Regions from separate parts of the Homo sapiens genome. Here region 1 is linked to region 2. Evidence: fine-mapped expression QTL. A gene starts in region 2. The other region holds a variant in brackets. All regions are shown on one strand. Distances are between the middles of the regions.

What was found. PIP is the estimated chance that this variant, and not a neighbour inherited with it, causes the effect.
Region 1: its variant is fine-mapped to the expression of TSPAN14 in whole blood (GTEx, PIP 0.96).

What each region holds. Positions count from the first base shown.
Region 1 is chr10:80,496,627-80,507,011 of GRCh38, forward strand. It overlaps TSPAN14 (tetraspanin 14), which reads left to right. Exons shown (of 9, transcript NM_030927.4): 3 at 8,102-8,152. Among named protein-coding and RNA genes, the nearest start is that of TSPAN14-AS1, 34 kb to the right of the region's middle. RefSeq lists an enhancer at 728-1,691 and a silencer at 3,207-3,501. The variant G/T (reference allele first, on the strand shown) is at 6,025.
Region 2 is chr10:80,448,603-80,458,987 of GRCh38, forward strand. It overlaps TSPAN14 (tetraspanin 14), which reads left to right and starts at 5,708. Exons shown (of 9, transcript NM_030927.4): 1 at 5,708-5,769. RefSeq lists silencers at 991-1,285, 5,304-6,353 and enhancers at 5,064-5,273, 6,017-6,534, 6,484-6,743, 6,774-6,823, 9,541-9,620.

The DNA.
Region 1 (10,385 bases), 48 kb after region 2:
AGGGCACAGAGGCTCGGTTTAGTTTTTTATTTTGTTGAGTGTTTTACCATTCTCCTTTAGTTTCCATAGCTTTGTCTTCAGCTTTACTGATCTTTTCTTCCATACTGTCTCATTGGCTGTTAAACCCATCTAGTGAAGTCTTCAATTCTAATATTGTAGTTTCTATTTCTAGTCGTTACATTTAGGTATTTTTTATGTCTCCAATTTCTTTCCTTATCTTATTTATATTTTCCTTTAAATTCCTGAACATATTTGCAATACTTGTTTTGAAGTTGTTGGGATTTCATCTTCTTTGTCATTCTTGTGTCTTCTATTTACTGAATTTTTTCTCTTATAGCTCACTTCTTTCCTTTTCTTGCCTATCTAGTAACTTTTGATTGGATATTAGTTATAGTTTTTCTACTAAGTATTCTTCCCTAACAGTATTAAGTCTTTTGTGTCTGACATCTTTCATTTAATATCATATGTGAGATTCATTCATGCAGTTATACGTAGTTGTAGATCATTTATTCTTGTTGTGTAATATTCTATTGTGGGGATATATAATTTGTGTTATTTACAGTTTTAGGCTATTAAGACCTGTTACAGTGATATAAAAACATACCAGTGTTGGAGACCTGAGTATAGGGTATCCCAGGCTTTGTGTGGCTGAGCAGGATGACATCCCATCTTTCCTCTCCAGGTCCAGATGGTTTTAGTGTGATAGTTTACAGCTGAGCTTTTCAGACTATGGCTTGCAGGCCAAACCTGGCCTTCCGCCTGTTTTTACACATACAATTTTATTGGAACACAGCCACACCCATTCATTTATGTATTATCTATGGCTGCTTTCCCATTATAACAGCAGAGTTGAGTAATTGCTACGGGGATCATCCAGCACACAAAGCTGAAAATATTTACTATTTGGCCCTTTACAGAAATGCTGACCACTGCCTTAGTATCTTGATTTTCTACCCACTGTTAATCACTGTGAACTGTGCCAAAGTTAGGTTGGGGGGTTCCCTCTCTCCTGGGGGTACTGCCTATCACCTCCCTTGAATGGCTGTGCTCCCTCCGCCTGCCTTCATTTCCAGGGCCTTGACTCAGGTTCCTGGGCGGGGCTCAGTGGGGGTCAACTCTGTTATCTGGCAACACAGAGACAGCTGTGGAAGCTGCCCCTGGAGCCCTCTGCACAGTCCTTCCCCACATTGGGGCCCTCACATGGGTTTGCTGGCTCTGCTGGGAGGGCACATGTGTTGCCTTTTCTCAGAACCACCCTTCCGGCAGGAGGAAAAGCTGGGGTGTGATAGCTATGTGACCCCATGCAAGGCACCTCCTGCTCTGGGCTCTGTTTCCCTCTGTCATAAGGAAGCCGAGCCCTAGCATCCCTTCTGGCTCCCAGACCTTCCGAACTCCCACTGACAAGTGGCTTGGTTCAGGCTTTCAACACAGGACAGATAACTGCAGCTCCTCCCTTGGCCCACTGGGCTCTCAGGCCAGGTTGGGTCTGGGGTCTGCACCCTCTGGTCCTTTTTGGCTTCAAATTCTATTCAATCGTCAGCATTTCAAGTGGCCACAAGCATCTCTGTTGTTTCCTGAATGCCCCAGGCCTGGATTCAGGATTTCTTATTCTGGAGAGTACCAGGACCCTGGGGTTTCCGTCTGGTGTAATTTATAATGGCAAAACTCAGCCAGTGGGAGGTGCATGGGTCCTTGCTGCTTATTTTGCTGATTGACAGACTGAGGCCCAGGAGAGGGATGGCTTCCTCGAGACCCTGACTCTGTGAGTTAGGGACAAAGCTGAGACTCAGTCCTGGCTTCCTCCACTCTCTGCTGTTTTCTTTCCATCATCCTTTCCTACCTCACTTGAAAAGCCTCCAGAAGGCCGTATTTCCCTAAGCTCTGCTTCACTGTTGTCTCCAGAAGCCCAGTAAAACAGGTGCCTCTGGAAAGCACTTGGTCTTAGGACAGAAGCTGGTGCTGGAAGTAATTGGGGGTGGGGTACAGAACACCAGTGTCAAGAGAAGGAGACTCTGTCTTCAGGACAGCAGATGCTTGTGGCATATCCTTGAACGCCCCTCACATCTCTGCTCTGTCTGCCGTGCGGGAGGGCATGGCCACCTTGAGACTGGCTCTGTGCCTGGAGTAAGCATGTCACGTAGGATCTTCCTTCAATCTTTACAACCTTCCTGTGACCTAGGAAAGATAATCCCTGTTTTGTAGAGAACATAGGCTCAGAGAAGGTCTTGGACTCGCATGAGGCCCTGTCACTAGGTAGCTACAAAGCAGAGACTGGACCCAGGGCCGGCTTTGTTCAGGGGAAGAGGCTCTGTGAATGTCAGGCTGAGTCAGCGTGTGGATTGTGCAAGACCCGGAGGCCAGCAGGGCAGAGCCTGAGAGCATCGCCTGCTGCTGGTGATTCGCCTTGATCTTGCTGAGGAAAGGCCTCTGGGGCCTGCAGGAGTTGCCAAGTACTTTTATACACGCTTAAATGAAATCTTGCAAGGAGCCAAGGCCATTAAATCATGGGTGAGAGGCTGCCTTTGACCTGCTTGGAGCTGCATCTTTCTCCTCCAGTTCAGCAGGGCCTGGCCGGGTGTCACTTCCTTTTGTGACTTGATTGTGCTTGGGTAAAGTACCACAAGCTTGCTCGTGTGGTAAGTGGATTTCTTGTGTCTGGACTCTGGCTGGACCAGCCCAGAGTGCCCCAAGAGGACCTCCTGCCTTTCGCAAGGTCATTTGCCTAAGGTGAAAGGTCAATATTTAATCTTCACAGTGACCCACAAAGAGGCCCTGCTGCCTTGTCCACCTGCCCTGGTTGGGACACAGCGTGGTCTCACTGCCTGACAGTGTGGGTCATTTGGCTGTAGAGCTGCACAACCCCAAAGCCCCCCTGTGGAATTCCTACATCCCCGGGCTCTTGTGTGAGTGCCCGTGTGTGGAAGGCAGCTGCTCTGTGGGTGGTAAGATACTGTGTTGCCAGGGTCAGAGGCATCCAGGTTTGGTTCTTAAGTCTGCCACCAGCTAGCCGTGTGACCTTGGGCAAAGGACCAAATTGCTCTACATTTGAGCTTTCCCATGTGAAAAATGAGGGTAATTGAGCCAGAGTTATGGGATATGGAGGGATAGCCTTAGGTCCATTAAGTATTTAATGCAGCGCACAGCTCCCAGGAAAGGGCAGCTATTCACAGTGACCATAGCAGTTTAGGTGCTCGCTGGTCCAGCAGAGGAGGCTGGCCTCTCCTCAAGCTGGGCCGGAGCTGGGCCCCGTTCTTCAGTAGGTAATTCAATTAGGTCATGGGAGGGAGACAAAGAAGGTCACTTGAGGCTGGAGGGCACTCAGCTGAACCCTCACTCCCAGAAGATTGGCAGCCAGGGCTCACAGCAGCCAGGGCTTACCTGGCCTGGCCCCATGGACCATCTGCTGCAGAGTTCCAGGGAAGGGTTCCGTGGGGTGAAGCGGGCCAATGACCCAGTTCATTCATGGGACCGTTATGTGAGCTCTCAGGCAGATCACTTCCCCTGTCTAGTCCTCCCTCAATCTCCTGGTCTCTGAAACCAGGTTTGTTGGTACTCAGAGTTCCTGCCCTGGGCCACTGTTCATTGAACCCATGATCTGACATGTGATCCCCAAGTTCCTGTCTTTCCGGTGTGAGTTAACTTTAGTTCTTCCTTTAAAACAGAATGAAAACAACACAAGGCCTTATTCTTTTTTTTTTTTTTTTTTTTTTTTTTTTTTTTGAGACGAAGTTTTGCTCTTGCTGCCCAGGCTGGAGTGCAATGGCGTGATCTTGGCTCACCGCAACCTCCACCTCCCAGGTTCAAGTGATTCTCTTGCCTCAGCCTCCTGAGTAGCTGGGATTATAGGCATGTGCCACCACGCTCGGCTAATTTTTTATTTTTAGTAGAGATGGGGTTTCTCCATGTTGGTGAGGCCGGTCTCAAACTCTTGACCTCAGGTGATCCGCCTCCCAAAGTGCTGGGCCTCCCAGCACTCGGCCTCCCAAAGTGCCGAGATTTCAGGCATGAGCTACCACGCCTGGCCAAGTCCTTATTCTTAGAGCTGAGAGAAAGAGAACTGCACGCAGTGGTGGGGAGCTGGCTTCCCCAGTAAACACAGAGTCAGCCAGGGCTTTCCCTGGGGGCCTTGAGAAGAACAGCAAGCGAGGGAGGGTGTGGTCTGTGGGCCATATGCAGAGCGGTAAGCGGCCCTACAGCGGCCCTGCATGTGGGGAAGGGGCGATTGGAACAGAGGTGAGCAGGAGCAGGCCTACCTTTGCATGGGCACTGTGCCCCTGAGGGTGGGGATATGAACTGCTCTTGAGGTCGAGGGTCTTTTTTGAGAACTTGTGCAGACCAAAATTCCTTTTGTGAAACCAGTCACCTCTTCCTATTGTATCTATTTAGTCACTATTTAGTCACCTAGGAGAACAAAACAACTAAAACAGCACCTCAGCGTGAATTCACAGAAACCTATTAATATAGATGGAACTGACGCTGTTTTTTTTTTTTTTCTTTTTTTTTGGGAGACCTGGTCTTACTCTGTTACCACCCAGGCTGGAGTGCAGTGGTGCAATCTCACCCTTGACCTCCCAAGTTCAAGCAGTCCTCCCACCTCGGCCTCCCTGGTAGCTGGGAATACAGGCATTTTTTTTTTTACAGCTAATTTTTTTAGAAAACCTTTTTTTTTTTTTTTTTTTTAAGAGATGGGGGTCTTGCTATGTTGCCCAGGCTGGTCTTGAACGCCTGGGCTCAAGCAATCCTCCTGCCTCAGCCTCCCAAATTGCTGTGAGCCACTGTTCTCAGCCTGAGGCTGGTATTAATGTGGGAAACAATACCCTTAGAAGTCAGACTTAGTAGTCAAGGTGAGAGAAGGGGTGAGCTGTGAAGTGCAGTGTGGAGGAGAGAGGGGAGCTCCAGCAGTGGTTTTGTTGAGTGTCCTTAAGGTAGACTTTTCTCACCTGTCCCATGTGGCCCCACAGGATGAGCGGACTGTCATGGAAAGCTGTTAGGCAGGGGCTGGAATGTCTGTTGGGAATGCTGGATGGGGCATCGGCCTCTGGGCTTGTTCTGCTCTGACCATAGGCAAATGCCCCTGTATAGAGCTTGACCCATGCACCTGGGCCAGGCTGAGCTTTTCTTGGCCCACATTTGCTCTGAATGCCTTTGGATTGAATCACACCCAGAAGTGTGCCTGGGGGTAGCTAGAAGGACCCAGGCAAGCACTGTCCTGGTCTTGAATCCTGGGGAGTCACTCATGCCTGCTCTGTGCCTACTGAGGGCCAAGCCCTCCTCGTTGTTGGGCTGCAACTCTGAACAAAACAGGTAACATCTCTGGCCTCAGAAGGGCTTAGCTGGGGAGACACAATAGAGAGACAGCCCCTGTGGTCTGGGATCAGTGCCGCGAAGAAAATCAACAGAGGAGGTCACACATGGAGGATGGGGAGCAGTTCCACTCAGGGTGGTAAAAGGAGGCCTTGAACGCAGTGAGGGAGGAGCCAGGAATGGATATGGAGGAAGAGCATTGCCGGCTGAGGGAACAGTGTCCAGGCTCTGAGGCAGGGGTGATTTTGATGACTTCAAGAAACAAGAATGTCAGGGTGGCCCAGGGAGTGGCGTTGGAGCAGGGAGGTGGGAAGGAGATGCCGTGGGAGATGTGTGTGAAGCCTGGCTGCAGAGGCCCTTGGGGGCCATGGGAGAGACCGTGCATTTTCTTCTAGGTCTGCGTGGGAAGTCACTGCAGAGTTTCGAGGAGGGGAGTTCCCAGCTCTGTATTTTTGAAGGGTCAGTCTTGTTGCTTGGACCAGTGAGGAGCCCCGTGGGATCCAGACTCGAGTGGGTGGAGCCGGGGCAGGTGGGAGCAGAGACACTGGAGGAAAGCTGGTCGAATGCACTGTGTATTTGGAGGCAGAACCAGCAGAGGGTCCTCTGGGTTGAGTGTAGGGCAAAAGAGAAAGAAGGCACCAAGCCTGGGGTCTGGGTTTTCTCTCTTACACTTGCTGGGTGGACGGTGGTGCCACTGAATGAGACGGAGAAGAGTTGGGG[G/T]GAGCTCGGTTGGGGTTGGGGGACCAAGGCTGCGTAGTGGGGCACAGTAAGAGTAAAATATCGTTAGCTGTCTTAGGAGGACAAGTAAAGTAGACATTAGGGTATTTGACCGGGGGCATGGCCAGGACTGGACATCTGAGTGTGTCACTCAGCAATGTTTAGATGGTATTTAAGCCTTGTGAATTATGAGATCATCGAGAGGGCTCAGGGCAGGGTGAAGGAGCTAGGACTGTGAGTGAGGCCCACCAGCATCTAGAGGGGTCTGAAGGAGGAGGAGGAGGAAGAGCAGGGAGGAAGGCAGTCAGGGGCATATGCTTGGGGTCCCCGAAGCAGGGTGTGTCAGTGGAATGGTTGGAGGAGGAGAGAATGACCAGCTGTGACCAATGAGGTCAGATACCATGAGGAAAAGTCTTGGCCTCCAGCTTTGGCAAGAGGGAGGCAGGTCCCTGGGGGCCTTGAATAAGATGGGTGGGGATGGAGCCTGCAGGATTCGGCAGGTGGTGACCAGTCACCTTCAGGTTGCTCAGCATGCCAGTGTAAGACACCTGGGGAGGGAAAGGAAGCGGTCATGCATTCTATCAGGAAAACCCTTCCCAGCTAGTCAGTTCAGGGGGAGGACTGAGAAGCGGGAAAAGGGTGTGGTGTGATATGGTAGAAAGGGCTCTACCCCCTTGGCTTGGTGCTGTATCCAGTACTTGAGACGGTATCTGGCACTCGGGATGTACTCCGTGAATATTTGTTGAATGAATGAGTGAGGAGTGAATGAATGAACTGAGACTTGTGATTCAGCCCTTCTCCCCACTGCCTGACATTTTGGTCTTGGCCCTCCCTGGGCCCCAGTGCTCTGCTTTTGTAAAATGGAGGGATTGGTTCTTGGTGGGGGTTCTTTACTTAGTGTTCACAGACCATTGTGGGAGCCAGCAGTGGGAAGCTGTGACCCCTCTAAAATTTCATGCAAAATACTGGGCATGTGTGCATTTTCTGAAAGTGATCTGTGATCCAGAAGAGGTTGGATCACAGATCACTTTCAGGTTGGATGAGACTTCCTGGGGCTTTCCTTGAGCCCTTTCTTTCCATTCTAGCCCCTGGGGCTAGTTACTGAGTAAAATAGGTAGAAGTGGCTCAAGGCTTGAGATCACCGGTAGTCATAGAGAAGCGTGGTCCTGTTATTTATCGTGAGATGGTGATAAATGGCAGTGAAATGCCAGTGTGGTGTAAAGTAGTCACAGAAAAACAGGAGGCAGCTTTATTAACAGAGCCCACGTTGTGTTTTGTTGTATATGGAAAAGCCCTCCCTGGTTCAGGAACCTGTGTGATGTATTTGGGTGGGCGCCTTTCTGTTGTGGTGCACATGGGGTATGGGTTCCTGCAGGTGGGAAGTTGGGGTTGGGGGTGGTGCTCCTCTGGGGCGAGCTCATTGCTTAGAGCAAGCCTATTTTCATTCTCTAGCTAAAAGCCCAGCCTTTCCTGAGCATAGATGCGCCCCCTGCTCATTGTAGTTAACAGTAGGGAGGAGGCTCAGCCCTGGCCAGTGAATGGCCTGGGCCACTGGATAGCTGCTTATCTGTGCCTGGAGTCTATCTCCAGGGCTGGAGAGCTGGGGTGTGTGGCAGAGATGCTGGGCTGTTTCCCCCTGTCCTCACCCTGTGGTGGTGCCTGGTCCTATGCAGTCTCATCCTGTGTTGGGAACCTCTGAGGGGACCTGGGTCAGCCCTCCCAAGGGGTGATGTCTTCGTATACACCAGATAGTGCACTGAAATGAGTTCAGGGTTGCAGAAAGGGGAAGAAGCAGCACAGCCTGATGTCTGTGACCCATAGTCTCTCCAGGGTGGAGTCCGCTCTGAGATCTTTTCCTCTTCCTTCCCTGGGGCATAGGGTCATCTGAGGTTGAAGGAGTTTGTCCAGATATTCAGGAAGGTAGGTTCAGGTTATCTGTCATCTGCGGGGCCTGAGGGGCCATGTGGGATGTGAGCTAGGAGCATGCCCTACCTGGCAGTGTGGACTTTGCTCTGTGAAGCATGTTCACAGTGCTGGTTTCCAACCTAACTTCCTTCTCTCTTTCCTCTGCCCCGCTTAGTTGGCTGGAGTTGTCTTCCTTGGAGTCGGGCTGTGGGCATGGAGCGAAAAGGTAGGTGTAACTGTCGCAGGACACTGAGCTTCAGGCAGCCAAAACCAGATTCGTTGGACTTCATTTTCCCTCCTCCAATCTGTTCCCTGACAACAAGCATTTCTTGTGCAGTGTCAAGGTGTATAATTGTCAATCTTTACAGACACAGCTCTTGCGTACTCTGCCCACATGATAGTATTGGCTGCTGGAGGTATGGGCTGGGCTGGTTGGGTTTTGAGCCCTGTGGATGTGGAGAGCTCAGCTCTTGTATGCAGCTGTGCCCAGAGCAGGCTTGGGCAATCCAGCTTCCTGACCCTGTCTGTGCCTCTGGGAGCAAGCGGGCAGGTCCCTGAATACAGGCATGCTTATTGTGGAAGCCCTTATCCTCCAGGATGAGAAAGAGCAGGCAGCAGGGAGCGGGGCTGGGTGACATGCCCCCAGGGTGCCCTGTGGGGCAGGGGTGGGCCTTTAAGCACCTCTGGGCCTCCTTGCCCAGCCTCAGGAGGAGAGGGGAGGAGTGGAGACCTGGCTCCTACTGTCGGGAAGGACATGGTGCAGTTGCGGCTCCAGGAAGGGGATGAGACTGGATATGGGCAGGGTGGGGCTGTGCTGCTGCTTGTTGCCCTGTGGCAGGGGTGCTGGGGAGGCAGTGAGGGCTGAAAAAGGCCAGGGAGGGAAGAGGGGAGGGGAGGGAAGCAGTAAGGTGGAGCAGGCCTGGCCAGAAAGAGCCAGGAATAAAGCTTCCTCTAGTGTCTTGAGCCTAGGCCTTCTTCCTTCAGTGGAACCTCCCTTTGCTTCCAGCAGGAGGAGGCAGGAGAACCTAGGTCTACAGGCTTTCCTGCCATGGTCTTAGGGACTGGATAAGGCCCACCTTCAGGTTTGGGCACCTTCCAAGTGGCCTGTGAACCCCTAAAGGGCAAGAGCTGGGGTACGATGTCCCTTTGCCCCAGTGACCCAGAAGCAGGTTCAATCTGTGCCTCACAGCACCACCGTGTGGCTTCCCCTGGGACTGCAGCCGCCTAACTGGGTGTGGCCCTGAGTGTGGAGCTGGCTACTACAATTCCTTTGAATCTGTCGATCTAAAATAAGTGAAAAGGCCAGAACCTAGTTTAGAGAGAGTTTATTCAAGCACACATGTTGAGGACAGGCCTACCCAGGAAGCACAAATTCCAAAGAATGGAAGTCAGCCTTCCTGTTCGAAATGTAGGAGCTTGGGATCATTTATCCAGCCAAAGCCAGACAGAGACTCTGTTGCCCAGGCCGGAGCGCAGTGGCTGGATCTTGGCTCACTGCAACCTCCGCCTCCCTGGTTCAAGAGATTCTTGTGCCTCACCCTCCCAAATAGCTGGGATTACAGGCATGTGCCACCATGCCTGGCTAATTTTTGTATTTTTAGGTAGAGATGGGGTTTTGCCATGTTGGCCAGGCAGGTCTTGAGCTCCTGGCCTCAAGTGATCTGCCCTCCTCGGCCTCCCAAAGTGCTGGGATTACAGACGTGAGCCGCCATGCCCAGACACCTATGTATGTCTTGATGCTTAGTCACAATGTTCTGATTAGTTGAGGCGGTCTTTTTCTTTCAGGAAAGGTATGTTTAACATTCCACACTGAAGATGTAATTGTCCCTGGGTCTTAGATGATATCTGATCTGAGTTAGTAAAGAACAATGAAGGAAGCAGTTAAACTATAACAGAGATCAGTGACTGGAAGGGGGGCTGTGGTCTCTCCGGTCCCTTAGTTCAACCATAATCTAAGAAACAGAATTGCAAACATGCTACATGACTCAGTCTCCAGGGCTTAGCTTCCCCCTTGGCGTTTTACAAACCCTATGGAACTGCTCTGCCCATTGTGTGACTGTGTTTATATTTAAATTGAAATTGAATATAAATTAAAATTCAGTCCTTCTGTCTCATTAGCCACATTTCAAGTGCTCCACGATACCTGTGGCCAGACAGTGGGGGTATAGTCTAAAACACCTCCATTGGTGTAGAAACTTCTATGGACAGCATTGCTTTGGCCTGCCCTTGGGCGTGTTTTCTACTAGAGTGTTCATATTGAGGCTGTTTTCATCTCAGAAGAGTAGTGTTCTTCATTAATTAGGTGCCAAATTGGGGGACTAACAAGGTCAGCCACCTGGGTGACCAGTTTGACCACAGGCCACAGGGCCCCGTTTCCCTCCAGGCCTGGAATAGGCACCCCACAGGCTGCAGAAGAAGCCTGGTGGCTGCCTAGGAGGAACTTGTAGCGTAGGTGGAGG
Region 2 (10,385 bases):
CAGATATAACAATGTCACCATTCTGCCTAAAACCTGCCCAGGGCCTAAAGAATACTTGGTATAGAAGACTGCTAAAAATGATGATGTTGGCCCTGCACACACCACTACCCCTTCTTCTGCATAGGCCTTGCCCTACTGATCATAGGCATGGGCATGTGACCCAGACCTAGTCCAATTACGATATCTCATCTCCCTCATCACGCTGGTTGTGTCAGAGTTTGTTTGGCTCTCTCAAGCCACTCCATGTTGCTGTAAGAATGGGTCCAGGAGTGAATATGTGACCAGAGCTGACCCAATTAGGATCCTTTTCTTTTCTTTTTTCTTTTTTTTTTTGAGATGGAGTCTTCCTCTGTCGCCCAGGCTGGAGTGCAATGGCACAATCTCAGCTCACTGCAACCTCCATCTCCCCTGTTCAAGCACGATTCTCTCACCTCTGCCTCCTGAGTAGCTGGAACTACAGGCATGCGCCACCACACCCAGCTAATTTTCCTACTTTTAGTACAGACGAGGTTTCACCACGTTGGCCAGGCTGGTCCGAAACTCCTGACCTCAAGTGATCCGCCCGCCTTGGCCTCCCAAAGTGCTGGGATTACAGGCATGAGCCACTATGCCCGGTCGATCCTTTCTTGAGATTTGTTCATACCGACTTAAGAGTGTAGACTTACTCAGTCACATACCTGACATGGCAAACTCTGAGAACTAGGAGAAACAGAGGGTAGGGCCCCCGTTCTGGGACGTTGTCAGGATCAGCCCCGTTTTGTGTCACTCTGGTTTCAAGTTCTTCTTTCAATTCTGTGAGCAATCTGAGGCTCCTTCCAGTATCTCCCCTTTGATGACCTAAGCTAGTCTGAGTGGGGTTCTCATTTCCAGCCAAAATGTCCCGACTAATCCTTGGTAGTCTGGTCCTAATAAGACATCTTTCCTGGGTAACAGAGTTCTTTACAGCTTACCCAGTATTTTTCGAAGTTTTACAAACTTTATCTCTTTGGATTTTTATTACAAGCTTGTGAGGTGGGTTTTAGTATTACCTTGACTTTACAGATAAGAACAGCAGGGCTCAGGAATGTAAAGTGGTTTGCTCAAGATCATGTTGAGAACTAGGAGAGCTTGGACACCAACTCCCTCTTCTGTTCAATCTCACCCTGACCTGCCCATTGCCCTGTAAACACACACAGAGGCTGCAGAGTGGAGCCCAGGGTGGGAGTGCAGCACTGGGGACCGACACAGAGGGCTATAGAAGTCAGGGGAAGACAAAGGGCAAGCTCTTCCACTTACAATTTTATCTGTGGCAGCTTCAGGTCCAGGAAAAAGATAAGAAACTCTCAGCTTTTTTCTTTTCCTCCTTCCTATACTGTTTTTTGTTCCCACAGTCCATACATTAGGCTTGCAGTCTGCACTACAATTCAGTTATATGCTTGGCAATTATGGTTCTAGGTGCTAGCCAGGAAGGTAAACCACTGGTTACAATACAACCCTTTTATGAGTTGGGGCTGTCTATATTGAATTTTTTATTTTTTAATAAAGGAGAATAAAATAGACCTGTTTTGCATTTCGTGTCTCTGAGGCTCTCTCAAGCCACTCCATGTTGCTGTAAGAATGGATCAGATAGGCCAGGCACAGTGGCTCACGCCTGTAATCCCAGCACTTTGGGAAGCCAAGGTGGGCAGGTCATGAGGTCAGGAGTTCAAGACCAGCCTGGCCAACATAGCGAAACCCCACCTCTAATAAAAATACAAAAAATTAGCTGGGTGTGGTGGCACGTGCCTATAGTCCCATGAATCCAGGAGGCAGAGGTTGCAGTGAGCCCACGCCATTGTACTCCAGCCTGGGTGACACAGTGAGACTCCGTCTCAAAGGAAAAAAAAAAGAATGGGTCAGATAAAGCTCTGTGGGTCTCTGCTACAGCTGGGAATGGCAGGTGAGTGTCAGATGTGACTGTCTGGGGCATGGCAGGGAAGGCCATGCTGGCTTTGTGGGTATTCCCACCACACTTTTCATAGCAGCAGTGTGGCCAACTATTCCAGAAAGGACACATCTCCCAGACGCTGCTCAGGCCAGCAAGATCTCCAAAACCGCTCAGTCCATGGTTTGCAAAACTGGCTTCCCCATCTCCTTCCTCCTTGTTCTAGCTCATGACCTCCTGCACATGCAGGATTGAGCAGAAATCACCAGGTGTGAGTAATCATCTTCCCAATCCCAGCCTTTACCGGAAACCTCTCCTCGGCCTCCACACTCCTCTCCTTAATGATGGTGGAGGCGTCCCTTTGTAGGAGGTGACCCTCGTTAGTGCCTATACCCTATCTCCTTTCACCTGCTCTTCCTATCATGGCCCCTGCCTTCTTCTTAGATCATTCCTATCAGTGTGCAAGCCTGCTTCAGTGACTCCCATATTTTAACAAACCCCTCTTTATTCCAACAAATGTTAGAATTAGATGTGGCTACATGTGCCATAAAACAGAGGATTAAACAAGACAGAAATGTCCTTCTCCCATAAAGAAAGTCAAGAGGTAGTAGTCCAAATGTGTGGTGGCTCCCTACACATTAGCATCCACATTTATTCTCACTTCCACTAACATCCTCAACACTTTGGCTTCCACTTAAGATCCAATATGGATGCTTGAGCTCCAGCTATCTATTAATATATCCTAGTGGGCAGGAAAGAGTAAAGCACATGACTTCCCTTTAAAGCCAGTTTTGAATTTGCACATGGACTCCTACACTTACTTCCTATTGGGAGGAATGAAGTGTAGCTGCAAGAGAGGCTGAGAAACTTGCCTTTATTCTGGGAAGCCATGTGGCCAGACAGAATTAGAAATTCTATGAAGGGAAGAGAGAATTACTACTAGGGGCATCTAGCAATCTCTACCAAAGCATCCTATGCTTCCGTATCCTTTCTAGATCCCTCCCAGTTCTCCATTCCCTGTTAGACAAGTTGTGCAAATATGGTAGCTCTACCACAGCATGGCTTCCACCACTACTCCAGGAACACTGCCCTCATCATGTTCACCAATTGCCTTCATGTTGCCAGAGCCAACAGGTCCCAGTCCTCATCTTACCTGATCTCTAAGCAGTGTCTAACACAGCTGACAACTGCTTTCTGGAAACATTTTCTCAGTCTCTGGGATACTCCTGATTCTCCTTCTGCCTCCCCAGTCTCTTTTTCAGTCTTCTTGCCTGCTTTGGTTCCCCTGGGTCCCTCCTGAACTCTCTCCTCTTCTGCATCTACTCCCTCACCCTGTGTGTCCTTCTCAGATCCCGTGGCCTTGAGCATCTTTATGCTGATGTATCCCAAAGCCCCTCTCCCGCCCTGGCCTCTCTTCTGAGTTCCTAGTGATGAGATAACCCCGCTGGTTCTCTAACAGGCATCTGAAGCTCCATGTGGCTTGAACAGAATTCCTGATGTAACTCCCTGAGATGTGGTTCATGCTTTTTGATCCAATAAATGAAGCACTATCCACCCACTTACCCCAGCCAGAAACTTGAGTTATCTTTGGTTTCTCCATTTCCTGCCCCCATGTCCTTCCTATCAATGTGTCCTCTTAAGTCCAAAATAGCATCTCTCAACTACTCATCTTAGCATGACCACCACTTTGGTTCAAACCACCATCATCTTTGGCCTGGATTGTGGCAAGCCTAATTGGCTCCCTGCTTTTATTTTTGCCTGACACCCACACACAGCCTTAAATCAGAACATGTTAGTCTTCTGCATAAAACCCTTCCAAGGCTCAACAAAGTCTCCATTCTTTGACACAGCCCACAGGCCCTGCATGCTTTGGCCCCCACCCACCTTCTCACTCCATCCTGGGCCTCTTCCCCTAGGCTTAAAACTTCAGCCACACTGATTTTCTTTCAGTTCCCTGACCCATCCAGAACTTACCCTGAAAAGGCACCTACTGCTCTCAGCGAGGAATGTCTCTGCCCAACTTTTCCCAAGGCTAACTCCTTACTCTTTTGACTTCAATTTCAGCATCGCCTCCTCACTTTCCCTGACTGCTTCATCTAAGGTAGCTTTTATTCTCTATTCTAGCCCCTTGTTTTTGTCCCAGCCTTTACTTCAACTTGTGATTATGTATTTGTCTTCTCCACTAAAAATTAACTTTATTGGGCAAAAGGCCTCAGCTGTCTTGTTCACTGAAGTATCCCACCATGCACACAGGGCCTGGCATATTATCAGGCACTCAGACAAACACTCACTATCTGCTGAATGAATGGACAGGTTCCCAGGGAGTTTCCAGAGCTGCCTGGGCTGTCACAGACAGGTTGCATCCCTCTTAATTAAACAAACAAATAAAATTAGCCAGGCACCGTGGCTCATGCGTGTAATTCCAGCACTCTGGGAGGCAGAGGCGGAAGGATTGCTTAAGCCCAGGAATTTAAGACCATCACTGGCAACACAGCAAGATCTCGTCTCTACAAAAAAAAAAAAAAAAAAATTAGCTAGGTGTGGTGGCCTGCACCTGTGGTCCCAGCTACTTGGGGAAGCTGAGGCGGGAGGTCGAGGCTGCAGTGAGCCATGGTCATGCCACTGCACTCCAGCCTGGGTGACAAAGCGATACCTTAGCTCAAAAAACAACCCAAACAAACCTGGGAATGGACTGAACAGTCTCCATTTCAAGATTTCCTCCTTCCATTGGAATTAACCTGTTGGTTGCTTGTACTGGCATGTGGCAACCAGTCTTAGCCCAGTTTTAATAGATCCCTGTTTGGTGTTACTCAACAGAGAAGACCACTCGGCCCTCAGCCACCGAATAAGTTTAAGAAACAGAGGTGTGGCATGCTTCATTCTACAGGTAGGGAGGCTGAGGCTGGGGAGCCGCCCCTGGCTATCCCTGGAAACCCCTCTACCCCACAGGAATCGTCCCAGCCATCTCTTTAGCGTAAAGGTGAGGAACAAATCTCAGCCACGATCCAAAGAGGGGCGCCACCCCTGGCTGTCCCTGGAAACCCCCCTACACCACAAGAATCGTCCCAGCCACCTCTTTAGCGTAAAGGTTAGGAAGAAATCTCAGCCACGATCCAAAGAAAGCTTGGTATTTTTAGCACCAAGGCCAGAAGGAGCGTGTCCTTACTCCTTGGTTTACAAAGAAATAAAAACCTTTTCCCCATCCTTCTTTTGATTGAAGACTACCCCCGCCCCCAGGCTCCAAAGCCGGGCAGGAACGCCTCTTATCTCCACCACAGCCATTTTCCTAATCCTTCGCCCGCTCTCCACGGTCATCCCGTGTATCCCTCGAGACGCCGCCTCCCACAGCTCGTGCTTCTCCCAGGTTCGGCTCCGACAAGGCCAGAGCGGCGTCTGCGCAGCGCAACGGCTCAGAGCGCTCCCGGCGGCTACAAGTGCCCGGCCCCGGGCCAGGCCCGGCCTGCGCCGCGCACCCACTGGGAGGGCGCGGACCGGGGCCGCCCCAAGCCTCCGGCACCGCCCAGAGCGGGACAAAGGGGCGGGCCGGCGACCCGGCCTCGCGGTCCCCGGTGCCGCGCGGGCCGGGAGGCGGGGTGCGGTGGGGGAGGGGCGAGGCGGCTGGGGGAGGGGCGGGGCCAGGGCGGGCCCAGGCGCCCGGGGCCGCACCGGGCGGCGCAGGGAAGCGGCGCCCCTTCCTCGGCAGACGGCAGGCGCCGCGCCTCCGGCCCCGCCCCTCCGCGCCCCTCCGCGCCCCGCCCCCGCCGCTCGGACGGCCCGAGTCGCGCCCTCCCGCCCCGCGCCGCGGAACTTGCTCTAACTTCCTCGGCCGAGCCGGGCCGCGCCGCCGCTGCCGCCGCCGCGCGCGGGTGAGTAGAGCGCGGAGACCTGGCTGGGGCGTCGGGCCCTGCCCCTTTCTTTGTCTGAGGCCGACTTCCCCGAGCGTTCTCCGGGGGCGAGGGCTGCTCCTTAGGTCCCTGTTTGGCCCCTCAGCCTCCCTCCCCGCCTGCCCAGGAGCGGCCCCGCGGGCGGCGCTGGCTTTGTCTGCCAGGATTGCTCGCTAGAGGTTGGAGGCCTCCGCCGGGACCCCGCTGAGCCGAACTCCGGCGCCGCGCGGACGAGAGCCGCGGCGGGCCCGGGGCCGGCACTCCTGGTTCGGTAGCCCTCGCCCCATCAGCGCGCCCCGGCGAGTGCGCGCCCGTGCCGGGCGGGGTGAGGGCGACGGGAGCCTGGACGGCCGCTGCTGCTCGGGGCTCTGCTTCTCGTCCCCAGCAGCGAGCTCGGGGATGGGCCACCCTTTCGGCTCAGTCACCCACCCTCGGCTCCCAGGAGATCGGGTCCGGGGTGGGGGTGGGCGTAGGCCGGGGCGGGCCGCCCCTTCCTCCTGCCCCGCCGTGGTTGTGCTCAGTCTCCCACGCCGCCGTGGGTCCCACTCTGCCCGGCTTGGGTTTGGGACGGCCGGAGTTTGAGTAGGCGGTGACCCAGCTTCTCCGCGTTAGTCGTGTGGGGTTGTGTTTGGGAGCAAAGCCTGACCCCTGACCTAGCCGGAGTTCTGGTAGAGTGAGGTTTGTGGCTGCGGACTGTGCTTGTCCCGGGCCGCTGCTGCTTCTCCTCCACCCCCAGGGGTGGGGTGCGGGTGGGTAGGAAGTGCCTGTGTGAGGGTGTGTGGAGGGACTTTGGCCCTGGGACCGCAGGAGCACTTGTCTTGGGGACTTAAAGTTGATCTCCGGCGAGAAACAGTCCGTGCTAGGGGGAGTCGGGGGAAGTCGTGGGCCCGGGTACTGGCCTGGGGCTGGGCGCAGAGCGGTGGTGAGTGCGGCGGTGTCACACACTCGTTGGCTGTGCTGGCGCTGCTATCCGGGAGGTCAGGCGGTGCTGGGCGGCTGTGCAGAGCATTGTATTGGAGCCTCTGCAGGTGTGCTCTTGGCAGTGGTCTGCTCTCCAGGGGATCTTCCTCCCTTCCGAGAGGGAGTTGCTCTTGGGCTAGTGAGAGAGTGGCCTGCCAAATCCTCAAAAGTAGCCTTCCCCTTGCCCCTTGACCTTGAAGTCCAGAAGCAGTTAGTGCCTGCTGAGTGCTCCGGCCACCCTTCTCTATTTGTGAAGGGAAACCTGGGGACAGGCCATCGGAGCACCCCTATGTCCTTGCCACATTTCAGCTAGCCGAGTGGTTGGTGGGGGCGGCCGTCTTTCCAGGGATCTTCCTGGGCCCTGGCACCCCCAGAATGAAGCCCAGACTCCACCATAATGGCCCTGTATGCCCTTCTATCCCCTTAGCTGCTGGTGTGATCATAGCCTCAAATTGCTGGGCTCAAGTGATCCTCCCACCTCAGCCTCCCAAAGCACAGGGATTACAGGTGTGAGCCACCACGCGCAGTCTGATCCCACTCCGATCCCTAACGTTATAGTGACAGGCCCTGGAAACCCAGGGCCACCAGATGTATTTTCCCTTTCCTTCTCATTGTGTTGCACCCCAACTTCAGTTGGAGACTCTGGATATATCCATCCCCACATCTCTGAACTCCACTGCTTGGGCCACCTAATGTCATCCTCAGTTTAGTTAACAAAGCATGGTTGAGATTTCTGTGGGGTGCGAGGCATTGTTGCAGGCACTATTCCAAGTCTGGAAAGTCCCTCACCAGCTATGAACTTGGTGTGGTCTTAGAACCCAGGCTGGACATGGCATAGGTGCTCAGTAGTGTTTATTGATCTGAGCTTGATCTCAGCGTAGCAGGATCATTTAGGGAGACGGGGTTGTGGGGGGGGTCTGAGCCCATGGGTGCTTCTGAAGGTTTGTGGCTGCCCCAGGAAGAAAGGGCATGGAGCTGCAGAATGGTTGGCTGCCCAGGGAATTGTCCCCTTCACCAGCTGGGCAGCTGTGCTAGTCTCTGAGGACTGGTGAAGGTCCTTCTCATGTAGGAAGTGGCAGTATGAAGTGGGAGAGGAGATGGCTCTGCCCTGAAGGTTGTGGCGGCAGTGAAGTGAAGTTCCCATGGAGGCCGGGGAGCAGGAAAGCCCTGGGTTCTGGAACTATTTCCTGAGGCCTCACTCTATGCCACCATGTGCTCAGGAATTTGACCCATTTAACTTCAACTGAGGTAGAATTCCTTTTAGCAGTGCCTGCAAAGTGGCATTGTGCCAGGCCTGGGAAACCTTTGCTGGCTTAAAATTTAGTGAAGGACAAGATTATTTCATAGTGATACTAATGTGAGTTTATTGAGACTTACACCCTAGAAGTTTGACTTGTAATAACTCATTTAATCCTTGAAAACAGCTGTGATGGCTGGGCGTGATGGCTCATGCCTGTAATCCCAGCACTTTGGGAGGCCGAGGTGGGTGGATCACCTGAGGTCAGGAGTTCAAGACCAGCCTGACCAACACGGTGAAACCCTGTCTCTACGAAAAATACAAAATTAGCTGGGCGTGGTGGCACATGCCTATAATCCCAGCTACTTGGGAGGCTGAGGCAGGAGAATTGCTTCAATCTGGGAGGTGGAGGTTGCAGTGAGCTGAGATCGCGCCGTTGCACTCCAGCCTGGGCAACAAGAATGAAACTCCATCTCAAAAAACAAAAAACAAAAAGCAAAACAACCGTGATGTCAACAGCTCCATTTTACAGATGAGGAAACTGTGGTCCCGAGAGGTCACAGAGTAACTTGCTTGAAGTCTCAATATGAGCTGGGTTTTCTCATTTCTTTTTTTTTGATACTGAGTCTCACTCTATTGCCCAGGCTGGAGTGCAGTGGCGTGATCTCGGCTCACTGCAACCTCCGCCTCCTGGGTTCAAGTGATTCTTCTCCTGCCTCAGCCTCCCAAGTAGCTTGGACTACAGGTGTGCACCACCACACCCAGCTAATTTTTGTATTTTTAGTAGAGATGGGGTTTCACCATGTTGGCCAGGCTGGTCTTGAACTCCTGACCTCAAGTGATCCGCCCGCCTCGGCCTCCCAAAGTGCTGGGATTACAGGCGTGAGCCACTGTGCCGGACCAGGTTTTCTCATTTCTAATTTAGACAATATGTTCCTCTCAGAGGTGATTAAAATGGATTCATATACCAAACAAGCCTGGCCCACAGTGGAACTAATGAATGTTTTCAGTGAAGGTGCCCTTGTATCCCTGCCTCTGAACACATCTCATCTGTCCAGCACAGCCTGGGCACATAGCAGGTACCCCGGAACCCCCGCTGATTGGTGATGGAGCTTCTGTCTCCCTAAGGCCAGGGAATGGGAAGACCAGCACTACCACATGCAGAAGATTGGGGAGTCACTGCTTGTGTCTGTCTGGACAGATCACGGTTTGCTGTGGTAACAGCAATCCCCAGGTCTCAGAGGCTTAAAGCAACAGAGGTTTATTTCTTGTTCACACTGCATGTTCATCACTTATCTGCTTTATGTTGTCCTCACTGGGGGGACCCATAGTGATTAGTGGGAACACCCCTGGTGGCTTGGACAGAGGGACAGAGAACATGATGATCCCTGTGTCCTGCCACTGAGTCCTGGTGGCCTTTAAGATGCCTATGGGAAGGGGATTAGGTTCCTGCTGCCTGTCTCTGCCCTGCCGTGTCAGTCCTTGGATATCTTGCATGTTCCATCCGCTACCTGGATGTGGCCTGTAGGGGCAGCCACCTTTCCTAGAAGCAGGAGCAGGTAGCGATACCCAGGCAGGCCTGGTCCTCCCCACTTTTGTGGGACTCGGGGATTGAGCTTGCAGGCATAGGGGTGTAGAAAGCAGTGGTAGCGAGGTGACTGAAGGTGGACTCCCACTGGGGATGGGATTGAGTGTGGGGCTAGATCCCTGGTCTGTAGAAGGGAGTAGGAACCCTGTTAGTTAAATTTTCCCCCTCAGGCCACGTTAGTAGGATTTTGAAGAGTCAGCCACACTGTGGCTCTTGATTTTGTGCCTGGTCACCTGCTTGGTCTCTGGTGATTTCCCTCGGGGCCAGCAGACACTGTTGGAGGTGGTGAGGCCTCAGGTTCTTCTGCTTCATGGTTAACTCACTCTGCTTAGGCATATTTCCACCTTTTCCAGGGCCTCCGTTTTTCTGCCAGTGGATTGAGAGGTGGTGGTGGTCTCCAGCAGTGGTCTCACTCTTGGCAGGCTATCAGAGTACCCAGGGAGCTGCGTAGAATGAAGTTTTGAGAGTCTTTGGTCTAGGTGAATGCCAGCGTTTCAGTTTGCTTATCTTCCATTATAGTAGTGTCCTCTGTAACTGTGAATCAGGGAGGTTATTCATAATATCTCCACATCCATTTTCTCCCTTAATTGCGTATGCTTTTGATTTAGACAGGGCAAGTAGCCATTTTGGTGGAGCGCAGGCCCTGGCAGGGGGGCAGTGTCCAGTGCCGCTCTCAATTAAACGTGAAGATGTGAAGATGAATAACACTGTCCAGCTTGCAGAGTGGACGGTGGTGAGGCAAGCTTTCAAGTTGCACCTACTTTCTAGTTGAGTGACCTACACAAGTCTTTGATTTTTTTTTTTTTTCTTCCT